Linked DNA regions of Homo sapiens: region 2 is linked to region 1. Evidence: fine-mapped expression QTL. Tissue or cell type: blood mononuclear cells. Region 1 holds a variant in brackets; the other region holds the start of a gene. All regions are shown on one strand. Distances are between the middles of the regions.

Evidence for each region. PIP is the estimated chance that this variant, and not a neighbour inherited with it, causes the effect.
Region 2: it holds the start of CAPN2, and the variant in region 1 is fine-mapped to the expression of CAPN2 in blood mononuclear cells (TOPMed, PIP above 0.99). The same link has a PIP of 0.9 or more in T cells, lung, monocytes and whole blood.

The regions. Positions count from the first base shown.
Region 1 is chr1:223,757,877-223,766,136 of GRCh38, reverse strand. It overlaps CAPN2 (calpain 2), which reads right to left. Exons shown (of 21, transcript NM_001748.5): 12 at 6,656-6,867; 13 at 4,520-4,556; 14 at 3,886-3,951; 15 at 1,930-1,987. Among named protein-coding and RNA genes, the nearest start is that of CAPN2, 49 kb to the right of the region's middle. The variant A/G (reference allele first, on the strand shown) is at 4,490.
Region 2 is chr1:223,708,469-223,716,468 of GRCh38, reverse strand. CAPN2 (calpain 2) reads right to left here and starts at 3,930. Exons shown (of 21, transcript NM_001748.5): 1 at 3,592-3,930. The coding sequence starts at 3,828. RefSeq lists silencers at 3,464-3,583, 3,794-4,183 and enhancers at 3,293-4,244, 4,284-4,333.

The DNA of each region.
Region 1 (8,260 bases):
AGTGCTTTTTGAACAAATAAATAACAGAATGATCAATGGTTGGGCCTTAGGTGCCCACAGGATATAAAGTCACCTGTAGTTGTTGGGCAGGGAAAAAGAAAACAGAGAGCAGGTGTGTTAATTCTAGGCTATGACCCGTGAGAGAAAGAGGTTTACTTGAACTGTCCATCTGCAGACATTTATGGACTGTGTCCCCAGCTGACTGAGAAACCTGAGGAACTGGGATCGATCCACGAGCTATTTGTGCTGCACTAAGTGAGTCCTGTCCACTTGGTGTTTGGCAGGTGGCATGAGACCCTCCCTAGTCACCAATGTGAACCTGGCTCCCCACAGACTTCACGAAAAGCCCAGCCTTTTTGTTATGTCCCCGAAAGAGGTTAGAGCCTGACCTGCCTCAAAGCTGCCACTCTGGGCACCAACCCCTTAGATGGTCATAAGGCTCTGGCCCAGCAGCTGTGCATGCAGACTCTGGTGTGGAGCCCTCCAGAAGGCTGGAGTCAGCAGGCAGCTAGGGGTAGGGTAGTAAGCTCAGAGGCACGCGCGGAGCGAATGCTGCTCCCCCAGCAAGGAGCGGGCTGAATCCAGGCAAGGCCCGCTTCTTCCCCACCTCCCAGCCCCACCCTCCATCTGTGCAGAAACAATGAGGCTTTAGTCTCCTCAGCTCATGAGGACTGCATATCTGAAGAGCTCTGTGACCTCACTTGTGCCTGGTGGCCTCCAGGGTAAACACAATCTTCTTGCCTTCCCTGAAAATTAGAGGAGGGCGGGTGCAGACTGGGTCTCCTCTGGGGAGGCCCTGCACTGGACTGACCGTAACCTGACTGGCCCAGCCCTCTTGGTTCACACTGGGAGGGAAGACCCAGCTGGCCCTGGACTCTTCTTTGGCTCTGAAAGGCAGATTTATTTTATCTCATGGAGTTAGGCTAGAGGCCATCTTGTCAGAGGGAATGATGTCCCTTGAAGTCCATGAGGCTTCTCGAGATGATCCCTAGGGCTGGTATGCAGCAAACAACCATGACTGCATTTGTCTCTGATGCAGATTCCTAACTTCTGATATGTTCAAAACTCTGCTTCCTGGATTGCCAGTTGCTCTCTTAACAAATGCAGCGTGATTCTTTTGATAATTTGAGGGGAAAAAATGTCTCTGTGTTGTGTTTCCCGCTCCTCCCTGCTGGTGATCCACAGTAAGGGGTTGAACAATCAATCCTCTGACATTTTTTTGCTTAAGAAATAGTTAGTTACAAGATGTGGCCGGGCACGGTGGCTCACACCTGTAATCCCAGCACTTTGGGAGGCCGAGGTGGGCAGATCACTTGAGGCCAGGGGTTCAAGACCAGCCTGGCCAACATGGAGAAACCCCATCTCTAGGAAAATACAAAAATTAGCTGGATGTGGTAGTGCATGCCTGTAATCCCAGCATTTTGGGAGGCCAAGGCAGGTGGATCACTTGAGGTCAGGAGTTCAAGACCAGCCTGGCCAATATGGTGAAACCCTGTCTTTACTAAAAATACAAAAGTCAGCTGGCTGTGGTGGCACTTGCCTGTGATTCCAGCTACTTGGGAGGCTGAGGCAGGAGAATCGCTTGAATTTGGGAGGTAGAGATTGCAGTGAGCTGAGATTGTGCCACTTTACTCCAGCCTGGGCGACAGAGTGAGACTCTGTCTCAAAAATAAAATAAAATAAATTAAAAAAATAGATCACACAAAGCTAGTATGTAGTGGAAACCTGGATTTGATCTTTGATCTGTGGATGCTACAAACACTTGTTCTTTTTCATCACATCATACAAATCCTTCATCCACTTCTTGGAGGGGATGGAGGGTGGTGGTTTAGTCACAGCAGCCAGACATGGAGGGGGAAAGATTTCCATGTTCCCTCCCATCCACAGGGGAAAGAGCAGGATGAGGTTTTGCAATGAGGGGATACTCACGCTTTGCTAGAACCCTTCTCAGGATGGTCTGCAGCTCAAAGGCAGAGATCTCCGCATCCTGTGGACACATAACCAGAGCATAGTTATTGGCCCCCCGTGGGAGCTGGATGAGCACAGGGCAGGACACCAGTGCATTAGGTAGGCCTGCGGTGGGGCCTATGAATGTGCATTTCTAACAAGCCCCCGAGCCATGTTGGGGCTGCTGTCCCCAGACCACACTTTGAGTAGTACTGCCCCATTCTGGATTTTAGATACAGTGTTTTTGGTTTGGTTCTTTTTAGAACACCCAGGCTGGGCTGGACTGCAGTGGAATGATCCTAGCTCACTGAAACCTCAAACTCCTAGGCTCAAACGATCCTCCAGCCTCAGCCTCCCAAAGTGCTGGGATTACAGGTGTGAGCCACTGTGCCCAGCCTAGATACGGTGTTTTAATGTACGGATGCAGTAGGGAGAGTTCACTCACCATTTCTTTGCTGTAGAGAATATAAATAATAAATACTCCCCTCTACCCATGTTTGTGGTCTTTCTTAATTCTCTTATACCATTCCTCTTATCTGGCATGTTTTCTTCATTCTTTAAAACTCAAAGCTCAGACTTCCTGTAAAACTGGTGAAAACCAGCTGTCTCCAAGACCTAGCCGGCCCTCCTCTATGCCCATCATGCCAGGGCCCCTCATGGGCTCAGATGTCTCTATCCACTTACACATATTTGTGTAACTCATGGATAAACTCCTTTGTTTAAAACCAAGATTGATTGCAGTCATGTTTGCCTTTTGGGGTGTGTATGTGTGGGATTCAATCAGAGGGGAAAGAAGACTCTCATGGCCCCTTTCCTTGGGAATCTGGGAGGGAGCAGAGGGTGAGAGGCCGGTGGAGGCGCAGAGCAGACGATGCCTGGCTTAGTACTTTGATGGGTCTTTAGGTCAGCGAAGGGAGTACCAGATGAGCTCAATGATTGGAAAGTTCCTCCACATAGTGAAGAAAGAGGACTTTTTTTTTTTTTTTGGAGTTGTTGGGAAGAAAGAGGGCTAAATAACTTTGTGATGGGACTAAATGGCTGAGGGATTTTTTTAAGAACAGGGAAGTGGCCAGGTATGGTGGCTCACACCCGTAATTCCAGCACTTTGGGAGGCTGAGGTGGGAGGACTGCTTGAGCTCAGGGGTTTAAGACCAGCCTGGACAACAAAGTGAGACCCTGTCTCTAAAAAAAATTTAAAAATTAGCTGGGCATGGTGGTATGCATCTGTAATCCCAACACTTTGGCAGACCAAGGTTGGAGGATTGTTGAGCCCAGGAGTTCCAGAGCAGCCTGGGCAACATGGCAAAACTCCATCTCTACAAAAATAAAAATAAAATAAAAATTAGCTAGACATGGTGGTGTGCACCTATAGTCCCAGCTACTTGGGAGACTAAGGTGGCAAGATCTCTTGAGCCCAGGAAGTGGAGGCTGCAGTGAGCTATGATCATGCCACTGCACTCCAGCCTGGGTGACAGAGAGAGACCCTGTCTCTAAAAAGAAAAAAAGAAAAAAGAAAAGAGAACAGAAAAGCCTAATTCAAACACTCTGTTGCAGGTGGCCTGCATTCTTGAGACTTGAAACCCTTCCATCTCTCCAAATCCTTTGTGGAAATCAAGGATAAGGGGCCAAGTTTCATGCCTCAATTGGTGTAGAACAGAGAAAATAAAACAGTCACAAGGTGAGCCCAGGAATCCTAAGGAAGGAGGAACACAGAGTCAGGGCTGACCATGCAAATGGAAGCCCCCGGCAGCATGCGGAGGTCTTAGGGAGGACACACGCAAGAGGGCTGAGCTGGAACCCAAGTGCCATTTGCAATTTCTCTTTGCTTTTGTTCAGTTTGTTTCCTCTCCCCTTTAAACTAAAGTCCCCTTGGGGACACACACTGTCTCTTCCTTTGCATCAACCAGAGTGCATAACATCGTTTTTGGGAACATTTACCTCTCCTGCCAACTGGGCAAACAGTCTCCTGAATCCATCATCAATGTCATCCTCGCTGATGTCGAACTGGAAGGTGAGGCAGAGACATGAGAATGCATCAGAGCGAGGCATGACACCAAGTGTCTGCCCGCCCTTCCATGGCAGCCACCTCCCACTCCCCTTCTCTACCCCTCCCTGGGGCCCAAATTCTACGGTGATTTGGGTTAAGATCAGGTATAGTGTGAAGAATTAATATAAGGTTTTTTTTTTCTAATTAAAACACAAGAAGGAATGTAAATTATGTGGGAAGGAGTAATATTCTAATTTCTCACAGAGGTATCTTCTCTAGCATCCAATTAAAATGGCCTTTTAGGATCTATTCTAGTGGGGACTCAGAAGAATAAAGACTAGCTGGAATGTTGTGGATGGATTTTGACAGTGGCTAGCACAGCCCAATAGGCAAGGGACTGGCCCATGCCCCCAGCACAGAGGCCAGAGCTGATGCAGGTAGTCGACTCTTGGATTCCCAGTACCCGGCTTTATCCTTAGTTTCAGGCTTTGTTCGTGAAGTCCAAAAACTCTTGGAGTTTTTTTGCTCCTCTGCTCTCTGGATTGTCCAGGACAG[A/G]GTGGGTGAAATTCAAAGAGTTACAAATACCTCTTCAAGATTGGCCTCGATTTCATCATCGACAGCTCTGGAAATAGAAGGAAATTATGTGTTACTGGAAGGCAGGCGAGGGCAAAAAGGAAGGAAATCACTGCTAAAATGGAAGTGCAGTGCTAAATCCAGCAGGGGGTAGGTGGGGTGGGGCAGGGCTGCGGTGGGGGGAGGTCTTTGTATTCCAAGTTTCTGTGATAACACCTCCCCTAAAAAGCAAAAATTTTTCTGCATTCCAAGTTTCTGTGATAACATTTCTCTGCATTCCAAGTTTCTGTGATAACACATCCCCTAAACAGCAAAAATAAAGGCAGAAGTGATCTGAAGGAAGGGTCATGACCAAAGCAACGTGGGCAGCTGGAGATTTTTGTTTGCTAGTTTTTGATCTTTATCAAATAGGATAGCCTTCGCGTGTAGCGTGGTGTTCGTCCTAGCCTTAAGGAATAGCTTCTAAGTTCCACTTGAAATATCCTTTGCCAACATAGACTTTCACACTGAGAATCATGCAGTGCAAATCATCGCCTACTTGTTCTGCCTCAGGTTGGAGAGGTGGGCAGTGCAGAGGCCTGTGTGTCATTTCAGCCAAAGCTCAGGTCAGGCAGTGGTTAGTTTATACTGTGCACCGCCCCTGTGTCCAGGGCCAGGTCCTTCTGCTCCATAGTGAGGGTAATCAAGCTCAGGAGGTTCTTCCTTGGGCCACTGTGATTTTAACTAAGTGACCAAGAGTCCTATCAGCAGGGCCAATGCCTGGCAGAAGGAAAAGGGGACCTCTTGGTGCTGATCATTGGAATCTGGAGCAGAAGGATTAATATTTTGGGACAAGGAAGTCAGAAACCTTTGAGAGGTGGGGTGTCCTCTTGGGGTAGGGAGCTCACCCTAGAGAGAGTTGAGGGGTTGAGGCTTCCCTGGGAGAGTGACTTGTGGCTGGCAGGGAGAGTAATGAGTTTGACAAAGGACACTGTTATTCTAATGCCACCAGGTCATGCTCCTATTTTCTTGTCAGTGAGGACTAAACTGAACACACCAGTCTTCCTCTAAGCATCCTCAGAGCTGAGAGGAAAGGTCCCTTCCCCCATGGTAGGCTTTAGCAAATGAAGACAGCCTGTCAGTGGCAGGGGGGCTACAGCCGTGCTATGGTGGCATTCATTGGTATGCAGCTGCCTGGCATTGCTTTGTCTCCCTTCGCCATGGGAAATTATTTCTGCATCATGCATTATCTTGGGGCAAGGGCAGTTCCCTGCCTCTACCTCCCATTGGCTCTTCCTCTACAGGAACCAGCAGGCCAGGTGGCTGACCCAAGCCCAGCACCTCAGACACACTCCACAAGATCTTTAGACCTCAGCACATGACCCAGAGTCCAAGGGGTCATCTCACACCCTGGTCCTCCAACACATCCTTGGCTCCTGTTCTTCCTAGCCTGACCCCCTACCTCCCATCAGTTCTGGAGTCTCCAATGGCCTTTCGATGAATTCCCTTTAGCTTAAATCACCCAGGGTAGATTCTGCCTTTGCCAATCAAGTGCCCAGCTGAACATACATGGTTGAGGCAGAAGTCAAAGTGGCAGAAGCCATTGTGAATTGAGGCCACCTGGACAGTGGCAGGAAATGGTGATGTCAGCCACAAAGGGTTCCCAAACGTGGGATCCCATGAGGAAGGGGAGAGAGAGCTGGTGACATGACAACTATAATAGGGAGAGGTTCTGGAGGTGGGAACCGTTGAGATGGTTCCCACCTTACACCCTTGGTGGCTCTGCTAGGCCAGGTGGCCTGGAAAATCAAGGATTACACCAGCACTGCTCAGCTTTCTTCAAATGACGAGACTGGATTCGTAGTTTAACATTAAAGTACCAACTTGAGAATTCAGAGACACGCTTATGAAATTAGACCCTGCAATTCACTGTACAGCCACCCCTTTCCAACCAAAAATATCCACAGTGGCTTTTTCCATTGTTTACCTTACTATAACACTAGAACTTCCTCAATCCATCAAATCCCCACACTAGTCCTTCGAGGTGGGCAGGTGTTACAGAAAAAGTAACTGACATTCAGAGGATGAAAGAGCCCTCTAGGGGCCGAGGAACAGACCAGTGGGGAGGGACAGGGAAGGGTGGGGAGAGGAAGGGACCAAACCGCCTACTGGTAGTCAGCTTTCTTTTCAGAAAAGACCCGGATGCAGAAATCCCCATCCTTGTTGGGTTCGAAGGTGGAAGGCACGAGAATGTACTCTCCTGGCGGCAGCTTGAAGCGGTTGAGCACCTCCCGGAGGTTGATGAAGGTGTCTGAGCGCTCCCTGGCGCGATTCGTCAGGAAGAAGTTTTTGCTGAGGTGGATGTTGGTCTGCCCACTTAACTGAGGAATAAATAGAGAAACATGGGGGTAGATGAGGGGAAGCCTCCAGGCAAGTATCATTTTCATTCACTGAGATAAAAGCAGTTGGGTAGTGTGGTGGCTCAGTCCTGCTGTCCTGGTGTATAAGGAGGCGAGGCCAGGCGTCAGAAACCAGCCTGGGCAACACAGGAAGCCCTCATCTATATAACGACGACAACAACAACAAAACAACAAAATTTTTTTAAAAAAATAGCAGTACAGTGACAATGCCTGGGTCATTTTAGATAAAAAGCAAACTTTTGTTAGGTGTGGTGGCTCACGCCTGTAATACCAGCACTTTGGGAGGCTGTGAGAGGATTGCTCGAGGCCAGGAGTTTGAGACCAGCCTGGGCAATGTAGTGAGACCCCTGTCTCTGCAAAAAATAAAAATATTAGCCAGGGGTGGCGGCAAGCGCCTGTAGTCTCAGCTACTCAGGAGGCTGAGGTAGGAGGCTCACGTGAGTCTGAGAGTTCAAGGACGGCAGTGAGCTATGATCACACCACTGTACTCTAGCCTGGGTGACAGAATGAGACCTTGTCTTAAAAAAAAAAAAAACAAAAAGCAAACTTTCTACCAAAAAACACAAATGCCTGCTGAGGAACTCGGAAGCACATGCCCACAGGGGTTTCACATCCATTCAGCTCCGCCTGCAGAGATGCCCAGTCTTTCCACAGTGTTCCCAGCCTTCCTCTAAGAGACTCTCAGGCAGGAACAGCGTCCACATGGCAGGAACCTGGCTCGGTTCTACGTGGTGTATGATGCACTATAAAAGCAAAGACAGGACTGGGGGCAGGAGAAAGACAACCCAGCTTCTAAACCAAGCATGATCCACCGGACCAAGGCTGGAGCAGCATCTAAAAGAGCCCGATGTGCTACCGGTTGCACTGCCTTGCTGTGAAAGAAATGTACTACAGGTGGGTCAAAGTGCCCCGTGTGTCTACTTTAATAATCGTGACCTTGGACCAGGCATCCCATCTGCTTCAGCAAGCGGTGACTGTGGGCCCAAATGCTCTCGCAAAATTTAAGTCATTCCACGGTAGTGCAGTGAGGTGGATGGTTGACCAGTTTTACTGAAAAATAAACTGAAATGCAGCCAGGCACGGTGGCTACACCTGTAATCCTAGCACTTTGGGAGGCTGAAGGGGGTGGATCACCTGAGGTCAGGAGTTCAAGACCAGCCTGGCCACCATGGTGAAACCCCGTCTCTACTAAAAATACAAAAATTGGCCTGGCATCCTGGTGCGTGCCTGTAGTCCCAGCTACTGGGGAGGCTGAAGCAGGAGAATCACTTGAACCCAGGAGGTAGAGGTTGCAGTGAGTCGAGATCATGCCACTGCACTTCATCCTGGGTGAAAGAGCGAGACAAAAAACAAA
Region 2 (8,000 bases), 50 kb after region 1:
TGGGGATGGCAGAGAGAATCAGAATGCTCTTCTGCTGAGGCAAAGGAAGCCAGCTTGGCCCAAGGCCTGCCAGAGAGCTCTTATCCAGCTGATGGAATAGATTGGGCTTGGTGCTGGGAGCCTGTTTATTATAAAGAATCACACTGATAATCCTGAGTGTGCCAGGCACTTACTCCAGCAGGGTTTTTCCATTATACTTCAGAAACTTTCTAATGCCTTTAGCAGCCTCTCTAGAAAAGTCAGAGTTCAGAGTGGTGCTAAACACCTAAGCATCTAAGCGATGCTTCAGAAAACTGAAACTTGTGCACGGCATGTAGGGCATCGAATTAAATATGGGTCTTACCAGTCAGTGAAAAGGGGCTGAGGGTTTGGGCTTTGCTGCATTATTCTGATAACCTAGGTTTGAATCCTGGCTCTGCCACTTATTATGTAGGTCGTAGGACCCTGGGAAGTCACTTAACCTTTTGAAGTCTCAGTTTTTTCACCTGCAAAATGGGAACGATGAAAACACCCACCACAGAGGATTGTTCTGAGTGTTAAATGAGATAATGATGTAAACATGCCCTGGCAAGCACTCCATAAATGTGATCTATTATTATTACTGTTGAAGAAGTTGATGATAACAGTCACTGAACTTGGAGACAGGACATATGGGTTTGAGGCTGAGTTCGGCCAGCTGAAGATAAGCAAGTGAGAAACCTCTCAGAGGTTTGATTTTCTTGGGGGAAACATAGGGGCTCACAACATCTGCCCTTGCTCCTAACAGACTGGTTGCTGGAAGGATCTGATGTGCCACCCGGATCACACCTGCTTTCTCCTCACTGTACCCCTGCATGGCCCTTGGACCCCACTGGACTTACTGCTTTAATCCCCGCTCCAGGCACTGGAGCCACTCTTGCCAGTGTTGTGAAATCCTCTCTCCGAGGAAGAGCAGCTCCTCCTGCTGCAAGGCTAACCTGCTCCCCTCCCCTGCCCACAACCCGTATTCTCACTTCCTCAGGGATCCTGTTTCACTGCCCCCTCCCTGCCTTTATCTTTAATCCCTTCTTCCTGGTGATTCAACATATGACACATTCAAGTTGTTCTCATATGAAAAAAACACAGGCTCTCAAAGTCCAGGTCCTACTCTACCTATCAGTTCTCCTCTCTTCCCGGGGGTCCTTCTTAAATAAGTTGATCATGTTCTTAATTTCCAGTTCCTTTACTCTGGAGTCTACAACAATCTGGCTTCTACTCTCACCTTTCCATTGAAATTGCTCTGCTAAACTCACCAATGACTTGCTAGTGTTCAAATCCAGCGGAAACAACTGTGCTCCCCTTGCCTGACCTCAGCAGCATTTGAGAAGGTAGGAAGGAGGCAGAGAGCGCAGCCATAAGGGGTAGGCTCAACATGCACAGACTACACACAGTCCTGGATCTATGCCCTATATCCACTTGACTCTGAGCAAGTATTTAACCTTCCCAAGCCTCAATTTCTTCAACTGGCAAATGGGGATCGTAAAAGTCACACTCTTCCTTAGTTGTGCAGTGCACAGCCCGCCTGCCCTAAGCAGTGGCGCTAGATCATCTCTAGACCTCTACATCCTCATCTGGAAGTCCCACAGGCATTTCCAACTGTTGGGGGACCTGTCTCTGTCCCCTCACTAGCCTCAGAAGTAAGTCTTCAGAAGCAGAAACCATATGCATTGTGCCCAGCATATAGTAGGTATTCGAGAAATGCTTACTGAATGAATGAAAGAATAAGTGAATGAGTATGTGAACTCACTATGTAAACTGTAAAGTGCCATGCAAATGTAAAGTGAACACATTCTCTTGGTTTGTGTTTCACTTTTTTTTTTTTTTTTTTTACTTTTTTATAGAGACAAGTCTTACTGTGTTGCCCAGGCTGGTCTTGAACTCCTGGCTCAAGCGATCCTCCCACCTTGGCCTCCCATAGTGCTGGGATTACAGGTGTGAGGCACTGAGTCAGGTCAGCGTATCACTTTCACAACCATAATTTCATTTGAGGCACATTACAATCCTGCATCCATATTCTACAAACAGTCACTTCTTTTGTGTTCACTGGTGTATCTCCTGAGCTCTCAGGACAGTGCCTGGCATGTAACAGGTGCTCAATCAGTGTTGTCAAATGAGTGAGTAAATGAATGAATGAATGAATGAATGAATACTGTGAAAGGCATGGTTATGTGTCAGGCACTGGGGATATACTGGTAAATAATATACACATGATTCCTGCAGTTCAGTAGGAAGAACAAATACATGTGATTATATTCTAAACTGTGACAATGCTATGAAGGAAATGAGTGGGGTGACAGAGAAAAACAAGGTGGGGAGGTGGCTGCTAAGAAGGGTCAGAAAAGACCTCTTTAGGAAGGGAACATGTGACTAAGTTGGGAAGAATGAGAGTGAGCCACACTCCAGGTAACAGCGTGCCTTGCTGGTGAGAAGGCCTCATGCAGGAAAGAACCGGCTCTTTGAGAGACTGAAAGGAGGCCATGACGGCAGGGCCTAGTGGGCCACAAAAGAGAGAAAATATTTAGGCAGCATGTTTTCTTTTAGATGAAGACATGGAGGCACAGAGAGGTTAAATGGCTCGTTCAAGGTCACCAGCAGGTTAGCAAGAAGAAGAACCCAAGTGCTCTGAGTCTGGGCTAGGGCGCTTCCTGCAGCCCTTGCTACCTATGGGCTGGATTTAGGGTAACAGAAGGTGACCTGGGAGGCTGCTGGGTGTGGAAGCAGAGCTGGAAGCCTTGTTCTCACAACAGGAATCTAGAAGTTGGACTTCAGGGCAGGCTTTCCTAGGCGTGGTAGGGGAAGCCTGGGGAAGTGTCCCAAAGGAGGAGGAGCCTCAGGGGTTCCCCAAGAAACAGAATGGACAAGTAGATTGGGGAGCACAAGTTGTCCCAGGGCCGGGAGGTCAGAGACCCTGGGGGACGGGATAAGGGGGTCTGGAGGGCTCCCGGAGGTTTCCCGGGTGATTCCCGCCAGGGAAACCATGAGACACCTCCGTGTCCTGGGTTAATTACCAGTGTCAATGTTATGAGGAGGTATCGCTGGCTCCCCTTTGGAAAAATAAATCTAACCCCAGGGCTGCAGGAGACTATCCTTAGTCACAAAATGACCAGGCTATGGCCTGTCCCCCTCCATGAACAGACAGAACCCCAGTTGGAGACGGACTTTGTCTGGTAGATGCTGCCTCTCACCGTCCCTTCCCTGCAGACCCGATTCCCCTTCCCTTCCAGCTCCCCGCTAGAGTCCAATCAAAGTTTCACCCCGGCCTCCTGCATCACCCTGAGTTTTTGTGAAGTCCTAAAGTGGCCTGCTAGTGGGATCTGAGGGCAGTGATTCGCCTCGACCCGCCCAGGAAAGCGTGGTGGGTGGAAGAGAGGGAAGGCCCCGGGAGTCCCCCCACGCTCGAACAGAGTCCCGGGCTCTGGCGGCGCGGAGGTGTCGCAGGACTGCGAGGTCCTGGCTTGCGGCTTCCCCACTGCAGCACCCGGGCTGCCCCCCGCCCCAGCGCGCCGCGGGCCGGCCTGCACCCCGCCCTGCCCGGCACCCCGCCCTGCCCGCGTCCTGCCGCGCGCTTCCTACCGTGGGGCGCTTCCACTCGATGCCCCGGGTTTTGCTGGAGTAGGGCCCCAACTCCTTGAAGCCCAGGGCCGAGGGGATGGCCGGGAAGGACGGGTCCTGGAAGAGCGTCCCGGCCTCCAGGCACTCGTTCCGCAGCGCCTCGTAGTCCTGGTTGAGGTACTTGATGGCCCTGTCGTGGGAGCCCAGCCCCTCGGCCGCCTCCCGGTCCTTCGCCAGCTTGGCCGCGATGCCCGCCATGCTGCGGTCCCGGCGGCCGTACTGCGCAGAGAAAGGTCGGGGCGACTCCGCGCTGCGCTCGGCTGGGGCGCGGCCAGGGCCCGGCGCGCTGCTGCGGCCACTGCGGGCGCCGCCGCTGCGAGCGATGATTCACCGGAGGGAAGCGGCCCGGCCCGCGGGGTGTGGCCTCAGCCGCTCCCGGCCTGCTGGGCTCCCGGCCCGGGACCAGGCCATCCTGCGGCCTGCCGAGCGCCGGGAACGCCGCGACCCGGGGCCGGTGCTGCCATCTGCGGACAGCTCCCGGGATGGCGCGGCCCGGCGCCGGGGAGGCTCGCGAATCGCGGTCCAGAGTTGGGGCTCCCACCGGAACCCGAGGCCACCTTTGCAGCCCATAGGGAAGAAGGCTAGGATAGTTGTGGCCGTCCGGAAAACACCCGGGGAGTTAGCAGAGGGTCAGGTAGTGAAGTCGAGGAAACTAAACCAGCTGCCCTGAACTTTGTGCCAAACAGCGTCTTAACGGCTCTGCATACATCATCTCATTTAATCCTCCCAGCGACTCTGAAGAAGGCGCTGATATTGTCCCCATTTTACAGATGAGAAAACTGAGCCTCGGAGACGCTAAATGACGTCCCCAATGTGGCACAACAGTCACAGGCAGAACAGGGACTCTAAGCCACCGGAGGCCTATTGCAATCACAATGCTGCAATTACTACTGCTCAGCTGTTTATTTGATTATAGATAGGGTTGTCAGATTTGGCCAATAAGGCTGGGTGCGGTAGTTCACACCTGTAATCCCAACACTTTGGGAGGCCGGAGGCAGGCGGATCACCTGGGGTCAGGAGTTCGAGACCAGCCTGGTCAACATGGTGAAATTCCGTCTCTACTAAAAATACGTCGTGGCAGGCACCTGTGATCTCAGTTACTCGGGAGGCTGAGACAGGAGAAACGCTTGAACCCAGGAGGGAGAAGTTGCAGTGAGACGAGATCGCGCCACTGCGCTCCAGCCTGGGTGACAAAGCGAAACTCCATATCAAAAATAAAATAAAATAAAATGATTTGGCCAATAAAACAACAACCCTCCCAAATGTTTAATTTGAATTTCAGATAAACAACAGATACTTTTAAAGTATATGTAGGGCCCAAATATTGCATGGGCATACATACTTATTCTAAAAGAAAATATGATTCATTGTTTACCTGAAACTCATATTTAACTGGCAGGATTAGTTGGGTTACTATAGGGAGAGAGCATTTAGAATACTGCCTGTGTTGGCTACTGTGACCACTCTGTTGTGGAGCTAGGGTGTGATTCTCATCTCACACACAGAGACATGGGTGCGTGCCAAGAAATGCAGATGGGCAGAAATTACCTCCTCTTCTTCTCTACAGTAGTAGGGAAGAATTTGGGTTTCACTGGAAAACTGTGCATGGTCTACAGCAGTGGTTCTCAACTGGGGGCAGTTTTGTCCCCTACCCACCCCAGGAGACATTTGGGAATGTCTGGAGATAGTTTTTATGGTCACAGCTAGGAGATGAGGTGCTACTGGCCTTTACTAAGTAGAAGCCAGGGATGCCGCTGAACATCTTCCAATGTCCAAGATAGCTCTTGTGAACCCAGAAAATCTGAAACAGGTCTCATTTAATTTAGAAAGTTTCTTTTGCCATGGTTGAAGATGCACACCTGTGACACAGGAAGTCCTGAGGACATGTGCCCGAGGTGGTTGGGGTGCAGCTTGGTTTTATACATGTTAGGGAGGCAAGAGCCATCAGTCAAGTACATTTAAGAAATACATTGGTTTGGTTCAGAAAGGCGGGACAACTCAAAGTGGCGGGGGGTGGTGGGTGGGTAGTGGGGGTGGCTTCCAGGATATAGGTAAATATTTAAACATTTTCTGGTTGACAATTGGTTGAGTTTGTCTAAAGGCCCAGGATCAATAGAAAGGAATGTTTGGGTTGCGATAAGAGGTTGTGGAGACAAAAGTTTTATCACATAGATGAAGCTTTTAGCTAGCAGGCTTCAGAGTGAACAGGCAGTAAAATGTTTCTTATCAGACCTAAACTCTGGTTGATGTTCACGCTGGAGAGGTATAATGAAGCATGTCCGACCTTGCCTTTCCTTCATGGCCTGAAAATTTCAGGTTAAAATTTTAAGAGCCTCGGCTAAGGAGGAACCATCCATTTAGATGGTTGGCGGGGGTAGGGGAGGGGGAGGCTTAGAATTTTATTTTTGGTTTACATTCTCCACCCAAAACATGATCTAGTCCAAGACATCAGTCATGTAGAGGCTGAGAAACCCTGGTTTAGAGCATCTCCTTCCAGAAGATCTGGGTCTAGCCTTTCATTGTTTTTGTTGTTGTTGTTGTTGTTTTTGTTTTTCTTGAGATGTAGCACCCTGTCACCCAGGCTGGAGTGCAGTGACAGGATCTTGACGATCTCAGCTAACTGCATCTTCTGCCTCCCGGGTTCCAGCGATTCTCCTGCCTCAGCCTCCAACGTAGCTGGGATTACAGGTGCACACCACCACATCTGGCTAATTTTCTATATTTTTTGTAGAGATGGGGTTTCACCGTGTTGGCCAGGCTGGTCTCGAATTCCTGACCTCAGGTGATCCGCCTGCCTCAGCTTCCCAAAGTGTTGGGATTACAGGTGTGAGCCACCACACGAGCCCCTTTCATTGTTTTTGAGTTATTTTATAACTCTAAGTTGTATATAACTGTAGCAATGTATAGTTACCTAAGTAACTCTAAGTAAGTAATCTAAGTTGTAGATAACTGTAGCAATGGAAAATAATTTTTCCTATAGATATGCAAATGCATTCTGTCCAGTAGAGGCACTACAGTCCCCCTGTAGAGAGACCAGTTTTTTGTCTAGTTGCATATTCCATTTCAGTACTCTTCACGTCATGTAAATTGTGCTGCTTTGGTTTCTCCTTTGAACCAGTTATAACATCCACCAGATTGCCTCGTTTAATCAAGTTAAATGGACTCTTTTTTTTTTTTGAGATGGAGTTTCACTCTTGTTGGCCCAGGCTGGAGTGCAATGGCACAATTTCGGCTCACCACAACCTCCACCTCCCAGGTTCAAGTGATTCTCCTATCTCAGCCTCCCGAGTAGTTGGGATTACAGGTGCCTGCCACCATGCCTGGCTAATTTTGTATTTTTAGTAGGGACAGGGTTTCTCCACGTTGGCTAGGCTGGTCTCGAACTCCTGACCTCAGGTGATCTGCCCACCTCTGCCTCCCAAAGTGCTGGGATTACAGGTGTGAGCCACTGCACCCTGCCGAAATGGAATCTTTAAAATGTGTTTATTTTATACTAATATGAGAGCCATGATGTTACCTTTTCTTAAAGCAAGTATTTTTGTCACTATTATTCCTCTGCCCCCATCTATTCTTGTCTCTGACACCCATTGCTTACCCCCTTTGCTTGACAAAACTTTGGTCAGACTTCTCTCTTTCCTACAGATCCCTGAATGCTGCTTGCCCCCAAGCCTGAACAAGCACAAACAAAGTGGAGTGTCCCTGCCAAGTCACTTCCCTGCCCAGCTTCTCCTGGGAATTGACTGAACACAGCAAGACCCTTTTCCTGTCAGCTCCCACTGGTCATTTCCCCTCACTTGTCCAGCTTCCCCTCCCAAGAGTCTGCTTATCTCCACTTGCTCCTCCTTTACCCTAGAAAAGAAGAATCTTTTTCTGTTTGATTTTGAGCTGCTTGCAGATTCTCTGAATTGGAATTGTCTTTCTCTCTTTTTTTTTCTTTTCTCTTCTCTTTTCTTTCTTTTCCTTCCTTCCTTCTCTTTTTCTCTATTTTTTCTTTCTTTCTCCCTCCCTTCTTCCCTTCCTCTCCTTCTCTCCTTCTCTCTTTCTCTCTCTCTCTCTCTTTCGCTCTTTCTTTCTTGTTTCACTCTTGTTGCCCAGGCTGGAGTGCAGTGGTGCAATCTCCACTCACTGCAACCTTCGCCTCCCGGGTGCAAGTGATTCTCCTGCCTCAGCCTCCTGAGTAGCTGGGATTACAGGTACCAGCCGCCATGTGCAGCTAATTTTTTTGTATTTTTAGTAGAGACGGGGTTTCCTCATGTTGGCCAGGCTGGTCTTGAACTCCTGACCTCAGGTGATCCACCTGCTTTGGCCTCCCAAAGTGCTAGGATTACAGGTGTGAGCCACTGCGCCTGGCCTGCAATAGTCTTTCTTTC